Homo sapiens: one gene and its partners. The protein of the gene in region 1 interacts with the protein of each later gene in a pairwise test. Each region holds a gene or a part of one and is shown in the gene's direction. Other genes may lie near its edges.

Evidence for each region.
Region 2: the proteins of SORBS3 (region 1) and SETD5 interact in binary tests that used the Homo sapiens proteins (3 or more experiments, as listed by UniProt).
Region 3: the proteins of SORBS3 (region 1) and OIP5 interact in binary tests that used the Homo sapiens proteins (3 or more experiments, as listed by UniProt).
Region 4: the proteins of SORBS3 (region 1) and NFKBID interact in binary tests that used the Homo sapiens proteins (3 or more experiments, as listed by UniProt).
Region 5: the proteins of SORBS3 (region 1) and NAF1 interact in binary tests that used the Homo sapiens proteins (3 or more experiments, as listed by UniProt).
Region 6: the proteins of SORBS3 (region 1) and ABI2 interact in binary tests that used the Homo sapiens proteins (3 or more experiments, as listed by UniProt).
Region 7: the proteins of SORBS3 (region 1) and NCKIPSD interact in binary tests that used the Homo sapiens proteins (3 or more experiments, as listed by UniProt).

Annotation. Positions count from the first base shown.
Region 1 is NC_000008.11:22,561,927-22,565,426, forward strand, and holds part of SORBS3 (vinexin), read left to right. Parts: coding exon 1-5; intron 6-2,060; coding exon 2,061-2,151; intron 2,152-2,356; coding exon 2,357-2,443; intron 2,444-2,541; coding exon 2,542-2,595; intron 2,596-2,882; exon of another isoform or gene 2,883-2,947; intron 2,948-3,080; exon of another isoform or gene 3,081-3,147; intron 3,148-3,341; coding exon 3,342-3,428; intron 3,429-3,500. UniProt on the Homo sapiens protein: Vinexin alpha isoform promotes up-regulation of actin stress fiber formation. Vinexin beta isoform plays a role in cell spreading and enhances the activation of JNK/SAPK in response to EGF stimulation by using its third SH3 domain.
Region 2 is NC_000003.12:9,435,615-9,439,114, forward strand, and holds part of SETD5 (histone-lysine N-methyltransferase SETD5), read left to right. Parts: intron 1-113; coding exon 114-292; intron 293-1,235; coding exon of another isoform or gene 1,236-1,274; intron 1,275-3,500.
Region 3 is NC_000015.10:41,326,092-41,329,591, reverse strand, and holds part of OIP5 (protein Mis18-beta), read left to right. Parts: intron 1-3,500. UniProt on the Homo sapiens protein: Required for recruitment of CENPA to centromeres and normal chromosome segregation during mitosis.
Region 4 is NC_000019.10:35,887,452-35,890,540, reverse strand, and holds the end of NFKBID (NF-kappa-B inhibitor delta), read left to right. Parts: intron 1-50; coding exon 51-167; intron 168-486; coding exon 487-651; intron 652-1,928; coding exon 1,929-1,982; 3' UTR 1,983-2,589; downstream 2,590-3,089. UniProt on the Homo sapiens protein: Regulates the expression of IL-2, IL-6, and other cytokines through regulation on NF-kappa-B activity. Functions in the regulation of inflammatory responses.
Region 5 is NC_000004.12:163,135,891-163,139,390, reverse strand, and holds part of NAF1 (H/ACA ribonucleoprotein complex non-core subunit NAF1), read left to right. Parts: intron 1-2,140; coding exon 2,141-2,192; intron 2,193-3,500. UniProt on the Homo sapiens protein: RNA-binding protein required for the maturation of box H/ACA snoRNPs complex and ribosome biogenesis.
Region 6 is NC_000002.12:203,331,394-203,334,893, forward strand, and holds part of ABI2 (abl interactor 2), read left to right. Parts: intron 1-3,500. UniProt on the Homo sapiens protein: Regulator of actin cytoskeleton dynamics underlying cell motility and adhesion. Functions as a component of the WAVE complex, which activates actin nucleating machinery Arp2/3 to drive lamellipodia formation.
Region 7 is NC_000003.12:48,679,416-48,682,915, reverse strand, and holds part of NCKIPSD (NCK-interacting protein with SH3 domain), read left to right. Parts: coding exon 1-13; intron 14-363; coding exon 364-568; intron 569-759; coding exon 760-871; intron 872-1,135; coding exon 1,136-1,629; intron 1,630-2,686; coding exon 2,687-2,857; intron 2,858-3,028; coding exon 3,029-3,115; intron 3,116-3,202; coding exon 3,203-3,341; intron 3,342-3,458; coding exon 3,459-3,500. UniProt on the Homo sapiens protein: Has an important role in stress fiber formation induced by active diaphanous protein homolog 1 (DRF1). Induces microspike formation, in vivo. In vitro, stimulates N-WASP-induced ARP2/3 complex activation in the absence of CDC42.

The DNA of each region.
Region 1 (3,500 bases):
AGTGGGTGAGCACAGTGGGGCGGGGCCGAGGGCTGCGGAGGGGCGCGGCCCGCGAGACACCATGGGACGGGCGCCCCCTCGTGACCACAGCCGGCACAGCCTCGGAGCCCAGCCAGGAGTGGGGTCTCACTTCCGTGTCCGTCTGGGCTCTGTCCCATCTCTGGGTCTCCACCACCCCCATAGACTCTCTTCCCTACAGGGTCAAGGGGGGAAGGGTAGGCAAGAGTGGACCTGGCACCCGCTCCTGGCCAGGAACGCCTGTGATGCGTTTGTGGTCAGCAGCAGGAACTCTTTGCCCCAAAGATCCCACCGGTCTTATGAGACCGGGAGTGGGGCGGCCAGGACAGCCGTGGACAGAACTGTTGAGGGGAACTTGGACCTGGCGCTGTCCACTTTGAAACCTGAGAGAAAACAAGGGATATGGAAGAACCCAAGTTCCAGCCTGATAGCACAGAGAGAGGAGCCCCTTGGAGGGATAAGGATGACATTCCTTTCCTCTGTGCAAACCACAGGCTCCGCCCGGCTGCTGGGGCCCTGGCGGGGTCAGCACCACCGTGGGAATCAGGATCTTTGCTCTCAGAGTTAAATCCTTGAGTTTCTTATTCCCTTGCAGGGAAGGACTCGTCTCATTAGCATGGCTGAAACTGGCCCGTAGCTCTGGGCATCACCGATAAGGTTCAGAGGCAAAGGGCTCAAGATTTGGACGCTGAGTTCTGGGTTTAAGCCTGTGCACTGCCACTAGCCATGTGACTGTGGGTACCTCACTCAGTCTGAGCCTCTGTGTCCCCATCTTTTAAGTGGTAATGCCCAGAGGGTTCAGTGTGATCATGTGTGTATCATGCATCATGTTTTGCACATAGCAAGCCTGCACAAACATTAGTAATATACAGGCTTAATTATGATTACAAGGCTGGGTGTGGTGGCTCACGCCTGTAATCCCAGCACTTTTGGAGGCTGAGGCGGGCGGATCACGAGGTCAGGAGATCGAGACCATCCTGGCTAACATGGTGAAACCCCGTCTCTACTAAAAACAATACAAAAAATTAGCCGGGCGCGGTGGCGGGTGCCTGTAGTCCCATCTACTCGGGAGGCTGAGGTAGGAGAATGGCATGAACCCAGGAGGCGGAGCTTGCAGTGAGCCGGGATTGCGCCACTGCACTCCAGCCTGGGCGACAGAGCGAGACTCCGTATCAAAAAAAAAAAAAATTATGATTACTGCTTCCTTAGGTTAGGAATGACATTCTCACAGTCACTTTTATTATTACCAAAATCAGAATGGAGTCATTATTACAGCCAACAAATCCCAACCCTTGGTCAGACGTTGTATTATTTGATAAGCCTGATGCAGTGGTTCCTCTCAGTGGAAACTTTCAAACAGAGGCTGGAACATTCCATGTAAGCCAGCCAGCAAGGGGCCCTGGAGGGGAGCTAAGGCAGATGTGTCCATGCTGTACTGCAGTGGCTGGGGTGGTCTCACAGACAGAGTCACTGAATCCAGCACCCTCATGGAACTAGGCCCAGGGAGCAGAAATAACTTGGCCAGAGCTGCAGGGCAGAGCTGCCTCTGGCTTTCCTTGCCCATGGGTGTACGATCACTCAGCCACAGCACCCAGAAAGACCAGCTTCTTCAAAGCTGCACAGACGCACATAGCCACAGTCATGGGGCCAGACCAAACACACATACAGGACACTTTAGCAAAAAGGCCCACAGGAGAGGGTCGGGCCACACCTGGAGCAAATATGTGTGTGAGGCCTTCTCCCGGGCACCTCATATATGTTCTCTCACCAAATCATTTCTATATTACAGGTTCTGAGCCTGAGGCTCTGAGGGATCAGTAACTTGTTCAAAGGTTACACATCCACTAAACAGTAGAGCTGGAATTTAAGCTTGGAGCTCACACACTTCCACAGTTTAATCTTGCTTCCAGAGTAACGGCAGGGCAGTCAGAGGCAGAGTAGACCCCACAGCAGGGACAAGGGCAGGGTGAGAGGGCTGTGTGCTGGCTTCTGCCTCAGTCTCCCTAAAAGGAAGCTGAAGAGATGTCCTTCCCTTTCTTTAGAAGAAGCTGGGACCACTCTGAAGAGTTACCTAGAAGCACCTTCAACTACAGACCTGGAGCATTCTCCACTGTGCTGCAGCCCTCAAATCAGGTAGCCCACCCAGCATAGTCCCTGGTCAGCCCCAGCTGTATGCCGTATGGCCAAGACCCTATGCCACGATGTCCTTTCAGCTTGAATCCCTTGGAGGACACCGTGGGCCCAGGGGAAGGGCAGGGGCCTGCAAGCCTGCATTTTGAGCCTGGCCAGTGTCCCAGTAGCCCTCTTCACAAGCTGACACCCACCCACCTCCACGCAGGTGCTCAGACGCCGGGAAAAAGTAGACAATGTCTGGACGGAAGAGTCCTGGAACCAGTTTCTGCAGGAACTAGAGACTGGGCAGAGGGTGAGTGCTGGCTGGCTCTCGGGGTGTGCACGCACCCTCAGCTGATACATTTTGGAAAGTGAGTTCACCTGCTCTGACACACCCTTTCTACCCTTCAGCCCAAGAAACCGCTGGTGGACGACCCTGGTGAGAAGCCCTCCCAGCCCATTGAGGTGAGTGCTGCAGGGTGCTGGGGACAGCAGCCTGATAAACCAGGGAGATTAGGGTTTTGGTGGCCCCAGTAACCATGGGCATAGGCCACGAACTAAGAGCTCTCTCTCCAGTCCCACATGGTTTATTTCTGTAATGCCAGCACTCAGGACAGTGGCTGGCATACAGGAGGCGCTCAGTAAACATGTGTTAAATAAATATGTGTTGGCCAAAGCAGGAGCAGAAAAGGGAGTGGTCAGTGCGCACTGGGATTATCAGGAAATATTCTTGGAGGTGGAGCTGGACCCTTGAGAAGCTCCGAGGGCCTGATTCGGCGAAGACCCATAGCAGAGGCTGGCAGGAAGCAGCGTGGGGGTGGGGGCTCCGGTCCCTGGGGTGGCGGGGGAACCTGGATGGGCACAGTGAAGCCAGGCCTTGGAGGGCGGGAGAAGATGGGAGAGGAAATGGGGAACCCCATTGGTGCTGTAACAGAGACACAACTTGGCAGAAACTGGCAGGACTGCGGAATCGCGGGATCAGGAAGCGCGTAGGCACTCCCGGGGCGTGCTGGGCAGGTGAGAGGCCGTGGCGGGGATGCCCTCTTGGCACCCTGGGCCACACCTCCTGGCAGGAGCCCGGCCCGTGCGCTGAGGCCTGCCCTTACGCCGGCCCGGTGCGCTGGCCTTGCTTTTCACAGTCGATCTTTGACCGCTGCCTCCCACCCCCACGGTGCGCTGCCCCTCACTGCCCAGCCTCTCCCCGCCCCCAGGTGCTGCTGGAGAGAGAGCTGGCCGAGCTGAGCGCCGAGCTGGACAAGGACCTGCGGGCAATTGAGACCCGACTGCCGTCCCCCAAGGTACCAGCCCCCAGGGTTCACCCGCGGGGCACGCCGGCGACCGCAGGGTCGGGGCGAGCCGGGAGCCTCGGC
Region 2 (3,500 bases), on another chromosome or scaffold:
TTAATAGTGGAAGTAATGGCTTACTGCATGTGGGGCACACCTAAAAGAATAAGCTACTTTTAATGTACTTTTGAGGCTATTAGTACCTGAACTATGAAATCATCATTTTTCAGGTGGGGATAGCAGTGCAACAGAAAGCTGGGATGAGGAGCTTTCTCCTTCCACTGTGTTGTATACAGCAACACAGCACACACCTACAAGCATCACCTTAACTGTTAGAAGAACCAAACCCAAGAAGCGGAAAAAGAGTCCAGAAAAGGGTCGTGCAGCACCAAAGACGAAGAAAATCAAGGTATGCAGGGTAAAAATATCTTAAATAGAAATTGTCTGAAATAGCTTAAATTTTGGAGCAAGAATGCACCAAAATTCTTTTAAGAAGTTTGATCCAGGTGTTTGAAGGGCCACTTTTGTTCTACTTGCAAAAATCAGCTAATCTGTGTTATGTACATGTAGACCAACCTCTCTTCTGCCACACCATATCATCACCACTGGCTCAAAGTTTCTTCTACTCCAGTCCCCATCCCAGGTATGAAATTCCAGCCCTACCTGGCACAATCCCGTATGTGTTGCAGCCTCAAGTCTAGGCTTCCACTATCCTTACAGTATCTCCCCACCTCTCAACCCCAAAGTACAGTCTGAAATTCTTGTCCTGGTTACATGCCTCATGTCTTTGGGTTGATTGTTTTTCCTTGTTTCAAAAAAAATAAAAATCAGGAAACATCTCTTGTATGGTCTAGGTTTCCTCAGTGTCATGGTCACTTTCCTGTATTCTCAGCTAAAATGTCTACGGGAGAAACTTCTTCTGGTTTGTGTTCTTTCTTCCCCATCACAGCAACTTTGTTGCTTCTAGGTGACTTGTTCATCCCTTGTTAAGGGGATTGGTCTTTGTTTCCTTCTTAGTTTCAAAACTGGTAAATCTGCAACTTTAAAGTTTTTTTTTATTTACTTTTTCTCTTAGTATCAGAGGTGCATATAGGATTTAAGAGATGCATGCTCTTCCCTGTTAATTACCTAGCTTCACAGTAGAAAGTATTAAAATTAGTCTCAGAGTTCATTGGCCTTGAGCTACCCCTATTCTTGGTAATAGTTTGGGGAATTCCATTGTATTTTTTACCTAGAGAAAGGGGGACAGAATAGAACACTAGTTTGTGCCTTAGTTTTAGTCTCAGATAGGTATAACTGTCATTCTTGGTACCAAGTTTTGTTTGTTCTACTTGTTTTCCTCCTTGGGATAGGCATTTCGAGAGGGATCCCGGAAGTCCTTGCGGATGAAGGTAAGGGGTAATCTTCGCTGATGCTGTGTTTTACTTCACTGTGATCTTGCATTTTGGTCAGCTTCTTTCCTGACATTGATGGTCTGGGAATCTTGGACTCTGCTTTTCATTAGTTTGTAGTTGTTGCCATTCAGTTTTCATAGAGCTTTTCTCCAAAGTAGATTTTCTTGGCCATTTTCTGAAATATTTTCCCTTTCTGTAATCAGCCTTCATTGATTGGTTTTTCATTCATTGCTTTCCTAGGGGGTAAGTGACATTTTTCCAAACAAAATGAGGCTAGTGTGTTCTGTCACTGTGATTGAACTCAACCTTAGGAGTGGAGTTTTTCTGGTAATGATACAGGATCTCTTGTGCATCTACCCTAGCACTGTGTGGGCTTTAATTGCAGGACGCTTGTATTATTGATAAGAATTACTGTTTTCTCTTAGCATATCTGTTTGGTGGAAAAAACTTAGGTAATGCTAGCATGTTTCTTAAGATATCAAATAAAAGAGTTTATGAAGTATGATTTTGTAAAGAACTTGGAGAATAGAGCAAGTATGTGGAATGGTTTAAAAGAAGTGTAAGGTGCTGGTTGATTAAAAATAGCTTGCCAAAAGGAGATTTGATTATGCTGTCTGGTATCCTCCTTTACGTGTGTGTGTGTGTGTGTGTGTGTGTGTATAAATATATATATATGAGGAAAACATGCCTCTCAAATTATTACTGGGGGCTTCAAAGCATTTAAATAGAATTAAATTCAAGTTTATGAGTATTCATATTCCTAAATGATACAAAAGCAGGATCTTTCCTATTGAGAGTTATAGGGCATAAATATTAAAATCTTTAGTAAGGCCAGGCGCAGTAGCTCACGCCTGTAATCCTAGCACTTTGGAAGACCAAGGCAAGTGGATCACCTGAGGTCAGGAATTCAAGACCAGCCTGGCCAACATGGTGAAACCCCATCTCTACTAAAAATACCAAAATTAGCCAGGCGTGGTGGCAGGCACCTGTAGTCCCAGCTGCTTGGGAGGCTGAGGCAGGAGAATCGCTTGAACCCAGGAGGCAGTGGTTGTAGTGAGCCGAGATCACGCCACTGCACTCCAGCCTGGGCAACAGAGCAAGACTCCATCTCAAAAAAAAAAAAAAATTCAGTAAGGATAAGCTTTTTAGGATTGCTTTATGTGCAGCACCAGTGTGACTGGTGTTAGCAAAGATTACAGGTAGCACTTTACCTAAAGTTTGAAGGCCCCACTTAGTATCTATCTTTAAACAGACTTGCACATACCTGTGAAAGAGTTGGGAGAGGACTCAGAGCTACAGAGCATCAGAGGCCTGGGATGTGTCTTGGAAGACAAATCAATCATGCCTTTGCTGGATCCGTCTCTTGCAAGTGGCCAAGTTTGCTTTAGCTTCCCCTTTATTTTTGTCTCATTTGCTTAGAGAGGGGCCTTTTAAATAGACTTTGGAGGCAGATAATAGCCCTAATCCTGGCTACTAAATGCTTTTCTCTTATCAAGCAACTATCATAACTTATCTCCAGAAGCTCGAAACCTTTCAAAAGCTATAAACTGGCTCTACCAGAAAACTGCACATAAACCCCATATTTTGCTTACAGTTTTGGGAGGTTGACAGCCTCACAGGTGTGTTAAAATTTAGAAAAAAAAATTACTAGTCATTTTGATTCTTTTAATTCTAAATTGAGTTATAAATTTTATGCTCAGAATTACTAGTTTAAAACTCCTCCAGTGATCCAGGTGGGAGCCATAAGAATTAGAAAAAATTATCATTTGGATTTTTAATCCCAGTGTCAAGAGCAGCTTCCCTACTGAAGACTTAATTGTAAATCAGGGTTTCTCAGTCTTGACACTGTTGACAGTTTGGACCAGATAATTCTTTGTTGTGGAAGGGACTGTTCTGTGCTTTCAAGATGTGAACAGGATCCCTGGTGTCTACCCACTAGATGCCGGTAACACTCATACACTCAGTTGAGATTATCAAAAATGTCTTCAGATATTACCAAATGTCACCTGGGTGCAAAATTTCCCTCAATTGAGAACCACTACTCTAAACCCAACTGAGGTAGAGTCTCTAATGCCTTGAAGGATGGGACAGCAGAGTAAACACACAGTGAGATTAGCGAACAATGGCTAATACTGTGACAGAGGCTTCCAGAATACAGTACACTTATCAAGTGTAAGTTTAACAATTGCCACTTAAAGCTGGGAATATTGTTTGGACACTGCC
Region 3 (3,500 bases), on another chromosome or scaffold:
CTATAATCCCAGCACTTTGGGAGGCCAAGGCAGGCAGATCACAAGGTCGGGAGTTCGGGACCAGCCTGGCCAGTATGGTGAAACCACGTCTCTACTAAAAGTACAAAAATTAGGGGGGCGAGGTGGCAAGCGCCTATAGTCCCAGCTACTTGGGAGGCTGAGGCAGGAGAATGGCTTGAACCTGGGAAGCAGAGGTTGCAGTGAGCCAAGATCGCACCACTACACTCCAGCCTGGACGACAGATCGAGACTCCGTCTGAAAAAAAAAAAAAAAAAAAACTAGAGGGAAAGCCCCATGTGTTTCTGTATTTGTGGAGTAAGATGAGCTATATGGGACTTACGAAGAGGGTTATGAAATGGCACAGCTCAAGACAACTTGATTTTTTTCTAAGTGTAGGTTCATTACCTAGATGGGGTCAGAGAATGAATTAAGAGGATGATTAATGATGCAGCTAAAAGAGCATAAATTTTAGAGACAGCAGACTCGGGTTCTTTTTATTCTTTTTTTTTTTTTTTTTTTTTTTTTTTTGAGATGGAGTCTTGCTCTGACCCAGGCTGGAGCACAGTGGCGGGATCTTGGCTCGCTGCAACCTCCGCCTCCCGGGTTCAAGCTATTCTCCTACCTCAGCCTCCCGAGTAGCTGGGATTCCAGGCGCACGCCACTATGCCTGGCTAATTTTTGTATTTTTATATTTTTAGTAGAGACGGGGTTTCACCATGTTGGCCATGCTGGTCTCGAACTTCTGACCTTGTGATCCACCTGCCTCAGCCTCCCAAAGTGCTGGGATTACAGGTGTGAGCCACCGCACCAGGCCTTAACTTTACTCTTAATGAGGCATGTGAAATAAATTGATCCCTCTCAATCTGTCATATTTGAATACTCCTAAAATATACTCCCTCCGACATTTATTTAAACATTCTACAATTGGCATGAACCTCTTAGATTCAAAGTCATAAAGTAGACAGATACAAGGTTACTTCCGTCTACATTTTATTGTTCTCTTACTGGTAGAGGATTTATTGTAACTAATTTTAAAAAGGATTATTATAGTATGTTGACACTTAGAAATAGCTTTTTTACCCTGAGCTTTTGTTGTGCTCAACAGCATATTTAAATGGAATTTTGTTTGTATTATAAGTGAAGTACATTTTTTTCTAATTGTTATGGCAAATTCAAACCCGAGAGAAGAATATAATGAACCTCTGTCTACCTGTCACTAAACTAGAGCACTTATCAACTCTTGGCCAATCTTGTTTCATCTAAAATCATAGTTGGCTTATCATGCTGGCTCACGCCTGTAATCCCAACACTTTTGGAGGCCAAGGTGGGAGGATCACTTGAACCCAGGAGTTCAAGACCATCATGAGCAACATAGCGAGACTTCATCTCTAAAACAAAACAAAATATCTATCCTCCACAATGTTTTGAAGCAGATACCTGAAATTACATCATTCCATCCATAAATATTTTGGTAAGGATCTTTATAAGAAACTTTTTTCTATTTATTTATTTTTTGAGATGGAGTCTGGCTCTTTTACCCAGGATGGAGAACAACCTCCGCCTCCCAGGCTCAAGCCATCCTTTCACCTCAGCCTCCCAAGTAGCTAGGACTATAAGGCATGCACCACCATGCCCAGCTAATTTGTTGTAGAGATAGGGTTTCAACATGTTGCCCAGGCTGGTTTTGAACTCCTGAACTCAAGTGATCTGCCCACCTTTGCTTCCCAAAGTGCTGGCATTACAAGCATGAGCCACTGCACTCAGCCTTTCTTTTCAATTATTTTATTTTATTTTTTATTTTTTTGAGATGGAGTCTTGCTCTGTAGCCCAGGCTGAAGTGCAGTGGCAGGATCTTGGCTCACTGCAAACTCCGCCTCCCGGGTTCAAGTGATTCCCCTGCCTCAGCCTCCCGAGTAACTGGGACTACAGGTGCATGCCACCACATCTGGCTAATTTTATGTATTTTAGTAGAGACGGGGTTTCACCATGTTGGCCAGGATGGTCTTAATCTCCTGACTTCGTGATCCTCCCACCTCAGCCTCCCAAAGTGTTGGGATTACAGGCGTGAGCCACTGCGCCCAGCCTCTTTTCTTTTTAAAGATATATCCCAATTCTGGCTGGGTACAGTGACTCACGCCTGTAATCCCAGCACTTTGGGAGGCCGAGGCGGGAGGATCACGAGGTCAGGAGTTCAACACCAGCCTGGATGACATAGCGAAACCCCATCTCTACTAATACAAAAATTTGCTGGGCGTGGTGGTGGGCGCCTGTAATCCCTGCTACTGGGGAGGCTGAGGCAGGAGAATCGCTTGAACCCAGGAGGCGGAGGTTGCAGTGAGCCGAGATCACACCATTGCACTCCAACCTGGGTGACAAGAGGAAGACTCCATCTCAGAAAAAAAAAAAATTTAAACATACCACAAACACTATAATAAGCCCCAGGTACCCAGTTTCAACAGTTATTAATATTTTGACAATTATTTTCCTCTATACTCTTCACTTTTTTTTTTTTTTAATTCCTGGAGTATTTTGAAACAAATCACATACAGTAAATCAACTCTTCATCACTTTGGTATTACTTCCTGTTGTCTTGTAGATTCACAGACTGTTATAACCAAAAAAATAACATAATCTAGTTGACCTCATTCTACTGATAAGGATATGGAGAAACAGTTGTATTTGGTAGTGTATTGGAAGTATTTTCCTCCTATAATATTCTCCAGTGCCCATGATCCAATGTAATGATGGAAGGCCCAGCAAGCTAGGTGATGCTAACCCTTAGTGGCAGAGCAAGGCAACCCAAAGCAGCTCAGCACGGATGGTTAGAGACGTAGTACCTACTGTGGTAAGATTGTTAAAAACATGGGGCCGGGCACGGTGGCTCACACCTGTAATGCCGGCACTTTGGAAGGCCTAGGTGTGCAGATCACCTGAGGTCAGGAGTTCGAGACCAGCCTGGCCAACACGGGGAAACCCCGTGTCTAGTAAAAGACAAAATTAGCCAAGCGTGGTGGTGCACGCCTGTAATCCCAGCTACTCACTTGGGAGGCCGAGTCAGGAGAATCACTTGAACCTAGGAGACGGAGGTTGTGGTAAGCCAAGATCACGCCATTGCACTCCAGCCTGGGGAATGAGCGAAACTCCATCTCAAAAAATCACAAACAAAAAACAATAAGGAGCCACAGACTATACACATGATCAGAGGCAAAGTGTGGGAATGAAGTTCTTTTTTTCTTCTACAGTGGTCAACTTAGGATAAATTTTTTTAAATCATAAACCATGGTTTAGCCACTGAGGCACCGCTATATCATTAATCTCACTATCTGAACTTATTGCAATTTTCTTTTCCTTGTTTTATAGTAATATTCAATAAAATATACTGTGTTTTACTGCACTTGCAGATACTGCTTTTTTGTTTGTTTGTTTTTTTGAGATGGAGTCACACTCTGTCACCTAGGCTAGAGTCCAGTGGCATTATCTCGGCTCACTGAAACCTCTGC
Region 4 (3,089 bases), on another chromosome or scaffold:
GCACCTAGGTGTGAGGCTGGCCCTGACCTCTGCCATTCCCTTCCCCTCAGGAGATCAAGAGCAACAAGACAGTTCTGCACTTGGCCGTGCAGGCTGCCAACCCCACTCTGGTTCAGCTGCTGCTGGAGCTGCCCCGGGGAGACCTGCGGACCTTTGTCAACATGAAGGTGGGAGCTGGGGCTGGGAAGTGCAGATTGTGTGGGGTACGGTAGGGGGGGCAGTGGGATGTTAGGGGTCCTGGGGGCTGTGGACGTGGAGGGGACGATGTGTGGGATCTGCAGGGGAAAGTATAGGAAGCAGACACAGATTGCCCCAGAACATGTAGTCCGTGGACACAGGGATGCATGCAGCGTGGCTGTGGCCGGGGGAGGTCTGGGATGTGAAAGGACAAGTGTAGGACGTAGACAAGGCAGAAATTGAAGTGCAGTTTAGAGGCCTGGGCCAGCTGAGCCCAGATCCCCACCAGCCCTCCCCTTACTTTTCCAGGCCCACGGGAACACAGCCCTCCACATGGCGGCTGCCCTGCCCCCTGGGCCGGCCCAGGAGGCCATCGTGCGGCACCTGTTGGCAGCTGGGGCGGACCCCACACTGCGCAACCTGGAGAATGAGCAGCCCGTTCACCTGCTGCGGCCCGGGCCGGGCCCTGAGGGGGTAAGTAAGCACTGAGCCTGCCTGTAGAGTGGCCTCTGAGCTCGCGGGCGCGGGATGACCTCCCTGCCCCACCCAATGCTCGCTTTCAGAGAATGACTTCTAATCTCGGAAGGTGACTTCAGCCCTCAGGCAACCCTGACTCTATAATGTGACCTCTGACCTCAGTGTTTCATCCTTTACCCCAGAATGGTGACTTCTCTGATCTCTACCCCAACCCTGACCTCACAGTGTGACCTGTACTTCCAACCCTGAATCTTGCTTGACCTCAAGGTGTGACCTTTGATCCCCCCAAGTGTGACCTCCTACCCCCTGCCCCTAACCTTGGGTCCTGACCTCAGATGTGACCTTTGACCTCTTACCTGTTCCCTTCAATTCCCTCTCATTCCTCACCCCCAGGTGGGAACCCCCAGCCAGCAGCCCCTTTCCCTTCACTGAAGTTCTGCTTCCTGACCCTTTCTCAGTGTACGAACCCAGGCCTTGACCTTCTTCCCACATCTTTATTTTTATTTGTTTGTTTGTTTATTTATTTATTTTGAGGCAGCGTCTTGCTCTGTTGCCTAGGCTGGAGTGCAGTGGCATGATCATAGCTCACTGCAGCCTCGAGCTCCTGGGCTCAAGGGATCCTCCCACCTCAGCCTCTCCAGTAGCTGGTACTACAGGCAGTCACCACCACACCCAGCTAATTTTGTTTTTTTTTTTTTTTAAGAGATGGGGTCACACTATGTTGTCCAGGTTGATCTCAAACTCCTGGCCTCAATTGATCCTCCCGCCTTGGCCTCCCAAAGTGTTGGGATCACAGGAACCATCACTCCCGGCCTCCTTCCCAAATCTTTTTTTTTTTTTTGGAGGCGGAGTCTTGCTTTGTCACCCAGGCTGGAGTGCAGTGGTGCAATTTTAGCTCACCGCAAGCTCCACCTCCCAGGTTCAAGTGATTCTCCCACCTCAGCCTCCCAAGCTGGGACTAAAGGCACACGTGCCACCATGCCCGGCTAATTTTTGTATCTCTGGTAGAGGCGGGGTTTCGCCATGTTGGCTGGGCTGGTCTTGAACTCCTGACCTCAGGTGATTTGCCCACCTTAGCCCCACAAAGTGCTGGGATTACAGGCGTGAGCCACTGCACCTGGCTCTTCCAAAATCTTGACTCTGGACCTCTGATCTTCAAATCCAAAGGGACCCACTCAACCTCTCTTCTCTAGCCCCTCCCTCTGCATGGCGTGCCTTCCCCACCTCTCCTTCCAACCTGACAGACTTCTCTCCCTCCTTTGCCTTGTCTACAGCTCCGGCAGCTGTTGAAGAGGAGCCGTGTGGCGCCGCCAGGCCTGTCCTCTTAGGACTCAAACCCAGACCCTGGACTGATTTTCCAGTCCCCACCGTCCTGCGGGACAGCCAGCGTATGCTAATGTTGCAAACCCATGATAATGTATGTGGAATATCCTGCCATTGGGGTTTTACATTAAAACCCCAGAATGGCTGCAGAGGGGTGAACAGGCCCCAATATTTGGGGTGCTGTGATACCCCTCTTCTACCCACAAGGAGCCCTCTTGATGATTTCTGTGAAATCGAGGCCCCTTGATTGTTTCTGTGAAACACCCTGCACCCCTAGTCCTTTCCCCACTGAGATCTTTCGGGTTCTCTCCCCTAACTCAGCTCTTCGTTCCCAGAAACCCAGATGTAATCCCCCTACGTGGTGCTTGGGGCATCCCGATACCATCTCAGTAAATCTCCTACAATGGCCTCCTCACCCTCCCCGGGACCCACACCCTTCAGGTCCTCACCCTGAGACAGGAGGGACCCTCTGAGATCAGGGACCCTTAGGTCTCACTGCTCTCTGATTCAGAGCTCAGCTGGGCCCCCAGTTCCAGACCCCAGCATTCCCGGTCACTCCCTCCCTAATCTGAGCATCACTCAAGCTCTTTATTAAACTCAATTTGGGCCAGATTTGGTGGCTCATGCCTGTAATCCTAACACTCTGGGAGGCCGAGGCGGGCGGATCACTTGAGGTGAGGAGTTTGAGACCAGCCTGGCCAACATGGTGAAACCCTGTCTCCACTAAAAATACAAAAACAATTGGCTGGACATGGTGGCATGCGCCTGTAGTCCCAGCTACTTGGGAGGCTGAGGCAGAAGAATTGATTGAACCCAGGAGGCGGAGGTTGCAGTGAGCCGAGATTGTGCCACTGCACTCCAGCCTAGGTGACAAAGAGAGACTCTGTCTCAAAAAAAAAAAAAAAAAAAAATTTAAACTCAATTTGGACTAGAACCACTGTTGTCTGATCTCTGGGGGCACTGGTGCAGGGGAGTGGCTGTGATGCCCGCTGAGGGGTCATATTGGGATGAATGTGCCTGAGGGGGGAGGATGTAGCAGCCACCATGGGTGCCAAGTCCATATCCTGTCACCCTCACCCTGGCGACACAAGAGGGACTGGCCTTTAGGAGGC
Region 5 (3,500 bases), on another chromosome or scaffold:
GGGAGTGGAAGAAAAGACTGCCAAAGACTGGGGGAAGGTTAAATCCAGAAAGACTTTGCACTCAGTTTGACACAGAAGTTCCTTTTAGTTCTAGCTCTTCTTTTATTGGAGACTTAAAACCTAGGCGATACATTTTTATAGATGTTGTTTTTGCAGGAAAACAAAGGAACTTTGGTCACTGAGTAACTTTGGTATTATGTCAAAGGTACCAACCCCAGTTGCATGGCATAAGAAGATTACTTATACCACTTACATGTTAAATCAAGTCTCAAGTCACCAAATTTCATTTATTTCAGAGATGAAAATTTTGATCCTGATAATTGATTTAACTCATGTTTAAGAATCTACATAAAGATCTGGAGGAATATTTTGCCTAAGTTATTCTTCACATTGCATAAGGTTATTTTCTTAAATAACACTGACAAGAAAGATGAATTAAATACACATAAAGTCTTCAAGATATTAATATGTTCTAAAATGCTTTAAATATTTAGCATTTCATCCTGCTTTGAATATAAAGATACTGCTGTGGATATGCCATATATTTAGCTTTTTAACAAATAGAGTATTTTAGCTTAAAACAGATAAATTTGAAGAGGTTTTCTGAAGATGGTTTTTAAATAGATTTTAGATAATAGACTCAGTCTTTGGTTTTGATTTGCAGTTCTTCTATTAAGAAGCAGTAGTAAATCAGTGAATTGGGAAATTAGACCTATATTGCAGAAACCTCCCTCTCCCAGGAAAACTGTTGTATTCTAGACCTCATTTTGGCATCTGTCATGGGAACTTGGTGGAGTACTTTGTCTTTGAGGTAGAGAAGTTCAGCTCCTTTCCAGCTTACTGTTCTCTAATGAGGCTATTTTGATCTTAGTTTCTCATGTACTTACTGTCTTGTTAAAAGTGCCTTTTGAAATGTTGCTTGATCTTTCCTTTAGTAGATTTTGATTTTTTGTAATAGACGCACTAGTTGGGGAATTTTTCCCATTTATGTCTGTGATTCCAGGCTAACAGCAGTCCAGATCATGAGATGTCATATGTGCAGAAAGGAATACCAGAGATATATTTAAGGCCCATGTGTGAAATGACAATTGAGGAAATGCTTTTTTCTTTTAAGTGATGGAAAAGCCATTGATAATGGCTCATATATAATGTCAAAGTTCCGAATCAAAAATTTAAAGCAAACTTAATAACTTTCATGTTGTGCCAGCAAACTGACATCTGTACATTGATTTTAATGGCCTTAATTCCTGGGAATCTCATTTATTTTTGAGATCTAGTTTAAAACAATAAGGACATCTAGTCCTAATACTTTGTAATATTTTACTTTGTGATATTTTAACATAATGGAATAACAAAATAGTAGCTGAAACTATGAAATTAACAAAATTAAAAAGATTAAAAATGAGCTTTCACAAATTATACTGCTCATAATAGATATCTGTACTTTTGTTGGATGTAAAGTGTAAAACTCTCCACCAAAAGTTGTTGATTTTCAGCTGCAATTACACATTTCACACATGCCAGTCATTATATTGTCCTTCAGAATCTTTAAAGCAGCTTCTCTTCCTCTTCCTCCAACTATTCATAGTTAGCCTTTGTTTGACCCTCACTGCTTTGAGAATCAGTGTTGGAATAAGCCTTGGTTACTCATAGAGGATTGCTGACATTCCTCAGGTAAACTGAGGAGAAAATAATTCATATTGATATCTCTGCCATTAAACCTGTAAAATCTGTGAAAAGGGAATGCCTCATAGTCATTTTTATGTCCTTCGCACATGGAACAACTTCTGATCTACAGTTGGCGTGAAATAAGCATTTTTTTTAAACTGAGTTTTGTGAAAACTGCAAATATTATGAAAACAAAAATCAAAAGAGCTGTCCATCTGCTTTCCACTGCACACCATAGCCTTGGCTTCTCATTCCAGTTCCCTAATCCTAATATTTCTACTTGCTCAACTTTTGTGTTTTTCTTAGGAGCTTCCCACATCTTTTGAAATAAGGTAAAAGACACATAACTGTATTGCAAAATTAAAGGTTGAACTCATGTCCTTTACTTTATTATTTTCTGTACTTTTAAGTTATGAGCACTTAATAGAATTGTGATGAATACTTTTTTGACTCCCATCCCCACCCCACTCAGGGATAAGGGATCAGATGCATCATGGAAGAATGATCAGGAACCACCACCAGAGGTAAGTATAAGTCTTTTTATGCAACATTTTATAAAGTAGGGCAGGACTTAATCTTATAAATTTTATCATTCTTGCTGTTAGGGAAGTCATTAATACTGGCTAGCAGCCATACTGCCTTATCCTGTCCTAGCGCATGTATTCTCTCACCGTCCTAGATGACTATTTCATACCTTTCAGTGAAAGGTTTTGATTGATCATTTAGGAAAAAAACTTTTTTCAGTTACATTTAGTTGTATTTTAATAATTATCACCTTATCATTTACATTGTAGTTTACTATTTTTGTCAACTTTGTTGATGTCTGATAAAGGCAGGCTGTCATTATTTTTTAAAAATTTAATTGAGTTTAGTAAATACACCATATGGGACATGAAGACATGGTGCTTTTAATAGCTGTCCTTCTTTTGGAAGTACAGAATCATTGGAAGCACAAGATCATTGGAAGCTACCTACCTCTCTACTTTTTACGATATAACTACCTTTCTAAAAAGAGACCTTGATTTTCTTTTTGTATCTATGTCAGCAAAACAATAGTTTTATGCCCCAAGGTGACTTGATAATCTAGTCTTCCTAGAGATGTGAAGTAAATTTAGGAATAATATGTAAATAAGTTAATGATTTAATAGGATTACTTGGTTAACATTCCATGAAAGTGTTTAAGCAGATTATCTTGAGGGGTTTTTTTTTTGAATTACAACAATGAATATATTCATTTCTTAAAAATAGCATGTATTTATACAGTATAAAATAAAAATGTATATAAATATTTTTATAAGTAAAAATTATACATGAGAGTTTTTAAAGCTTGCTCAGCAGTTCTTATGAAGTTTTCTCAGTATTACAGTTTTTTTTTTGTTTTTTTTTTTTTTAACAAATATAGACATGGGGGTCTCAGTGTGTTGCCCAGGCTGGTCTCAAGCTCTTGGCCTCAAGTGATTCTCCAGCCCTCAAGCAAGCTTCTGCCTTGGCTCCCCAAAGTGCTGGGATTACAGGCATGAGCCCCTTGCCCAGCCAGTATTACAGATTTTTGATACTTACCGATTTAACCTTGGCCATTTTAGATGTTTAAAGCAATCGTAAATCATGATCTGTGTTTCTAATTTTACTGAGGTATGAATCAGGTTTATGCCCACTTGGAGGGTTCTATACAGGTATGAATCACTTAACCAGTGAATGATCCTTGCTTAGTATCTGAATTGAAATGGAATTATGTTTTCTAATTAATGTTATGTATTTATGTGATTTCAGTTAAGGCTCTGAATATTCACTTAATGTTCTGAATTAAGTTTTAGAGTATCTATAGCATCTTA
Region 6 (3,500 bases), on another chromosome or scaffold:
CCAGGCTAGAGTGTAGTGGCGCGATCTCGATCTCTGCTCACTGCAACCTCCGCCTCCTGGGTTCAAGCGATTCTTCTGCCTCAGCCTTCCAAGTAGCTGGGACTACAGGTGTGTACCACCATGCCTGGCTAATTTTTGTATTTTTAGTAGAGACGGGATTTCCCCATTTTGGCCAGGCTGGTCTGGAACTCCTGGCCTCAGATGATCGACCTGCCTTGGCCTCCCCAAAGTGTTGGGATTACAGGCGTGAGCCACCGCACCTGGCCAATTTAGCCTTATTATAGCATCATGTCTTAGCCACTAGCTCGAGTTAACTAACCCAACACTCATTTTATTGTGTGGAAATGTAATTTTTGCCTATAAAGTAGAAAAAAATCTGTTTATCATGTGTAATAAGTGTTTTTGCTCAGTGTTCTTTTTTTTTTTTTTTTTTTGACACAGAGTTTCACTCTGTCGCCCAGGCTGGAGTGCAGTGGCGCGATCTCAGCTCACTGCAACCTTCGTCCCCCGGGTTCAAGTGATTGTCCTGCCTCAGCCTCCCGAGTAGCTGGGATTACAGGCACGTGCCAACACGCCCAGCTAATTTTTGTATTTTTGGTAGAGATGGGGTTTTGCCATGTTGGCCAGGCTAGTCTCAAACTCCTGACCCCAGATGACCCACCCACCTCGGCCTCCCAAAGTGCTAGGATTACAGGCGTGAGCCACCGTGCCTGGCCCCCTAAGAGTCATTTTTAATAAAAATTTAGATAGTTTCATTATTCTAACCTCTAGAAAATGGGATAGTCAATATTTTTTCTAAAATATGATAAACAGGTATAACTACAGTTTGCTGATATTTATCAGATCAATTTTATTTCTTGCCTATACAAAGGATTTAGTAGTTGGTAGAGACTTTTTTTTGAGATACATGTAAGACCTGCGTTTTTCTTCATTTATTAATATACACACCTAGGCCGGGCACGGTGGCCCACGCCTGTAATCCCAGCACTTTGGGAGGCCGAGGCAGGCACATCACGAGATCAGGAGATCCAGACCATCCTGGCCAACATGGTGAAACCGCGTATCTACTAAAAATACAAAAATTAGCTGGCTATGGTGGCGTGTGCCTGTAGTCCCAGCTACTTGGGAGGCTGAGATGGGAGAATCACTTGAACCTGGGAAGCGGAGGTTGCAGTGAGCCAAGATCATGCCATTGCACTCCAGCCTGGGCGACAGAGCAAGACTCTGTCTCAAAAAAACAAAAATTACACATATAATGCCTAATATGTTTGAAGGTGTCCAGGAATTAAAAATGTTTTGGTTAACTTGGAATCTACGTTTTTACAAATAGAAGAATTTTTATTACAATATAGTTGTCTTAATGTTTTGGTAGATGAAATAACTCCCTATTTGTTACTTCCCTGAAATCTGAAAAGCCAACTTGTTGATATGTACGTTTTTCTTTTTGTTAGATAAAAGTTACTGATTTTTGTGAGTGACAGTTCACATAGATGCATAGTAAAATCTTATTGTTTGGATTAAGAGTAGAATCATCCCATAATATGGATTTATTCAAAAGAGAAGAAATTAAGAACTTACCTTAAATTTTTACCTGAAATATTTTTGAACAATAGGAGACATATTAGTAGCTTTCCTTTTCTTCTCTTAATCAATGTGGATACTCCCAGAGTTCACTAAAAACTTCATGAGAGGTTTACAAGGGAATATTATCAGTCAGTTTCATCAAAAGTAATTACCAAAATGATACAAAGATTTAAAATTTTTATTTAATAAAAATCATTAGAATACATGCTCATTGTTGAAAAATTATTGGAGAATACAAGTAGGTATTATGAAAGAAATGGAAAATTGCCCGATCATCTTGAATATATATCTGGTACTCATACTTTTAAATATTTTTTGTATGCACAACTATATATCAATATTTTTGTAGAAATGGGTTTATGTTCTATATTCTGTACCTTTAAAAGAACCTTTTAAGGATGCTGGGCTTGACTTTTTTTTAAATGGATGTCATATACTATATTGGGAGGAGGTTGGTTATATTTATAGGTCGAGTTCTGTATGTTCTTGCAAATGGGAGAATCTTAGAATACCTAGAATGAAGGAGAAAGAGGTCAGTTGAGAGTAAGGAGACTGAGTAGAATTTGGGAGACTGAATTCCCCATAGATTAAGATGACTCAACTCATTTGAAATTGATCAAGGCTTACCATTCCTCAAGAAATTAGTCCCTAACTCTCAGCAGAGACATTTGGTGAATAGATTTTCAGTGACAAATCAGTCATCTTCAAGACCTTTGACAAGATTGCAAAAACAGGCTAATTTATATTTGAGCCCCTTGCTCTTTTAAACATTTTGTCATTTGTACACTTCCTACACCTTCTTGTCCAAGGAACTTAAGTGACCTCATAATTTCCGTTATTGATCCAGGAAATCCAGTCTCACCTCATTTCACCCTTCCTTGAAGAGCTTCCTGGTTCAAAATTGCTCTTTACCAAAATAATTAATTAATAAACTGTTCATTTATTTTTTCTTTTCTTTTTTCTTTCTTTTTTTTTTTTTTTGAGATGGAGTCTCACTCCTTTGCCCAGGTTAGAGTGCAGTGGCGTGATCTTCGCTCACTACAACCTCCGGCTCCTGGGTTCAAGCAATTCTCCTGCTTCAGCCTCCTGAGTAGTTGGGACTACAGGCATGTGTCAGCATACCCAGCTAATTTTTGTATTTTTAGTAAAGACAGGGTTTCTCCATGTTGGCCAGGCTGGTCTCGAATTCCTGACCTCAAGTGATCCACCCGCCTTGGCCTTCCACAGTGCTGGGATTACAGGTGTGAGCCATCGTGCCCAGCCTCATTTACTTTTTCTTCTTACCTTGGTATGGGTAATGTGAGAATGTATGATAGGTTTACTTTATTTAGAGTCATCTTTTCTCACCCAGAGAATAATATATAAACCAAATTGGTTTACTTATGTGTAAAATATGTAGTAGAGATATTTTTGAGCATGAGGTGCTTTTGGTGTTACTTTTTCTTTTAAAATGCAGGGAATTTAATAGTATGCAGTTTCAGGGTGTGTAAGGTAATCTTTTGGTGGATGAAATATATTTGGTGGATGAATATGCTGTGATTTGCTTACACCCACCCCAAATCCATTTTGCAGCACCCTACTCACTGTCCAGAGATTCTGGGAAAAAAACAATAGAGAAGACAAAGCCAGTCTAGACACCATTTGACTCTACCTTGTGAATATTCTGAAAGTTACATTAGGCTAGTTGTAGATTTTTTTTTTTTTTGAGACAGAGTCTCTGTCGCCCAGGCTGGAGTACAGTGGTGCGATCTCAGCTTACTGCAACCTCTGCCTCCTGGGTTCAAGCAATTCTCCTGTCTCAGCTTCCTGAGTAGCTGGGATTACAGGTGCACGCCACCACGCCTGGCTAATTTTTGTATTTTTAGTAGAGACGGGGTTTCACCGTATTGGCCAGGCTGGTCTCGAGATCCTGACCT
Region 7 (3,500 bases), on another chromosome or scaffold:
GTGGAGTCCTCCAGTGAGTGTTGAGGGGAGTGAAGTGGGACCTCCCGGTGAGCATGGTGGGGTGGGGTTCTTCAATGAGTGTCATGGGGCAGGTGGGCCTGGGAAATGCGAGGGTTGGCAAGGGTGGTGGGGGAATGGCACCTCCCAGTGAGCAAGGTGGGGTCGGGTCCTTCAGTGAGCACCAGGGGTGTGCAGAGCGCAGGACTGAGGATAGTATGGGGTACTGTAGGCTGGGGTGGAGCATGGAGGAGATGGGGATGTCTGAGGGGCCTGGGCTATGGGGTCCCAGCATCCCACAGGGGCATATGAGGACTTTGAGCTGTGAGATGCAACCCCCCAATAGTCTTCCTGTCCTTCCATCAGGAAGCTGATCCACCACCGGAAAGAGACCCTGTCACGCAGAGGCCCTTCAGCCTCCAGTGTTGCAGTTATGACCTCATCAACCAGTGACCACCACTTGGATGCTGCTGCAGCCAGGCAGCCCAATGGGGTGTGTCGAGCTGGGTTCGAGCGGCAGCACAGCCTACCCAGTTCTGAGCATCTTGGGGCAGATGGAGGCCTCTACCAGGTGTGTGGGGAGGACATCGTGGAGAAGGGAGGTGGGTGGAACTTGAGGCTTCATCCAGAGGCTCAAGGGGTCCACTCAGGAGTGATGCGGCCCAGAGCCATAGTCCTGCCCACAGCCAGGGCTCAGGGCCCGAGCCTCGCTGACGCTCTAGATGTCAGTCTGTCCTCCAAGATCCTACTTCCATCTTCCAGATCCCACTTCCATCTTCCCAGATCCCACCACAGCCTCGCCGAGCAGCACCCACCACACCGCCCCCACCAGTGAAGCGCCGAGACCGCGAGGCCCTGATGGCCTCTGGGAGTGGTAAGAAGGCAGGGTTAGGGGAATTCAGGTGGAGGCACCCTATGCTTGGAATGGTTGTGCTGCCTGTGTCAGGGAAATGGAGGCTCTAAGCTGGGGAAGAGGACAGGACTCCCATTTTGGGGCAATTAGGGGCTCTGGGCTTTGTGAGGAGGCAGTGCCTAGCAGAGAAACTAGGCCCTGTGTTAGGGGACAGGGGATCTGGGCTGTGAAGGGTATGGTTTTCCAGGGGGCTGCCCTGGCCCAGCTTCTACTCACTGCTCGCAGGTGGCCACAACACCATGCCCTCCGGGGGTAACTCTGTGTCCAGCGGCTCCTCAGTCAGCAGCACCTCCCTGGACACGCTCTATACCAGCTCCAGCCCATCTGAACCAGGCTCCAGCTGCTCACCCACACCCCCACCTGTGCCCCGCCGAGGCACCCACACCACCGTGTCCCAAGTCCAGCCCCCTCCCTCCAAGGCATCAGCACCTGAACCCCCTGCAGAAGAAGAAGTGGCAACTGGTACAACCTCAGCCTCTGATGACCTGGAAGCCCTGGGTACACTGAGCCTGGGGACCACAGAGGAGAAGGCAGCAGCTGAGGCGGCTGTGCCCAGGACCATTGGGGCCGAGCTGATGGAGCTGGTGCGGAGAAACACTGGCCTGAGCCACGAATTATGCCGGGTGGCCATCGGCATCATAGTGGGTCACATCCAGGCCTCGGTGCCGGCCAGCTCACCAGTCATGGAGCAGGTCCTCCTCTCACTCGTAGAGGGCAAGGTGAGGGTGGGCGGCACAGCAGGGCCACCCTGCTACCCACCCTGTTCCCACCGTCACACACTTGTCCAGCCTGTACATTACAGGTATTTCTCAAGCTCTGGCTCTGAGCTCTTACTGTGCTGGGCACTGGGGACGTTGAGCTGATTTCTGAAGCAGAAAGGAAGGACAAGCATTCCAGGCAGATGCGCAGCCTGGACAAGGGCCACAAGGCAGGACTGAGCCTGGCTTGTGGGAGGAAGTGGAACAAGGCCTGCAGGACTGGAACACAGGGAGTGAGGGAGTGGGTGCTGTAGGAGGAGGTGAGACCTGGGGCAGGTGACAGATAAGACGACATGCGGGTGGCCAAGAGTTCTGTCTGGCTGCAGGGAAGGAATGGACACGGCGTGGGTGAGGGTAGTGCCTTGCTGACCTTGGCAGTAAGAGACATGGGTGCTGGGAGAGCTGGGATGGAGTCCTAGGTGCTGACATGGATGAGAGGGAGTGAGGTGTGTGGGCATCATGGGATGGGTGGGATCCTTGGCACTCATGAGCAGGATGGGGGCAGTGAGCCCAGCATACATGATGGGGGTCAGACAGACCAAAGGTCCCTCTTTAGTGCTCCATGGTTCCTGTTACACTTCTGGTTTGGGTGTTGGGGAGTGGGCCAATGGGCTTGGCTGTGCTGGGCACAACAGCTAGTGCCTGGTCAGCAGGGTTCAAGGAAAATGTGGCAAGTTGGTAGATGACAGGCCTGTGCCATTTTGTGTGGAATGGGAGAGTGAGGTCTCAGAGTCACATTCTGGCAGTGACAGAGTTCATGGCCCTCCTAGTTGGGGGTGTTTATCCAGGTCTGGGATGAGAGGCGAGCTGTTGAAAACCCCCTACAGATGAGTCTCCCGTTGACTCCTGTCCTGGGAGGTCATCAAGACTGGAGTTGAGCCTCCTGTCCAGTGTGGGCCAGGAGGGACTTGAGTTCATGGAGTAAAAGTCCACAGATGGACTCTCCAGGCCTTGGAGGCTCCCTGGAGATGGTGAGGGCAGGGAGTGTGCTGAGTCATGCCTTGCCCTCTCCCTCTAGGACCTCAGCATGGCCCTGCCCTCAGGGCAGGTCTGCCACGACCAGCAGAGGCTGGAGGTGATCTTTGCAGACCTGGCTCGCCGGAAGGACGACGCCCAGCAGCGCAGTTGGGCACTATATGAGGATGAGGGTGTCATCCGCTGCTACCTAGAGGAGCTGCTGCATATTCTGGTAAGGGTGGGGTCCCACACACATACCCCACATGGGGAACAGTGGCCCCCACCCTGTAGCATCCCTCACAGTGCTAGGAGTCTCCCCTACACATATGTGCTCAGCCCTCTCTTGTGCGGCTGCACAGCTCCGCTCATGGTGGCTGATGCTCTCACTTCCTCATTTCTGTAGACTGATGCAGACCCTGAAGTTTGCAAGAAAATGTGCAAGAGAAACGAGTTCGAGTCTGTCCTGGCCTTGGTGGCCTATTACCAAATGGTATGTGCAGGATGGAGGGGAGGGGTAATGGAGAGACCTAGATAGTGGGGGAGTTCCAGGCACTGAGCACGCAGGGTTCCCTGCCAGGAACACCGAGCATCACTGCGGCTGCTGCTCCTCAAGTGCTTTGGCGCCATGTGCAGCCTGGATGCAGCCATCATCTCCACGCTTGTGTCATCCGTGCTGCCTGTAGAGCTGGCGAGGGACATGCAGACAGACACGCAGGGTGAGGCTGGAGGGCGGGGTAGGAGGGAACTTCCTGCTATCTGGAGGGTGTTCCTGCCATCTGCTGGGGTTTCCTGCCATCTTTGGGGACTCTGACTGCCTGCCTTGTCCCCCCCAGACCACCAGAAACTCTGTTACTCTGCCCTCATCCTGGCCATGG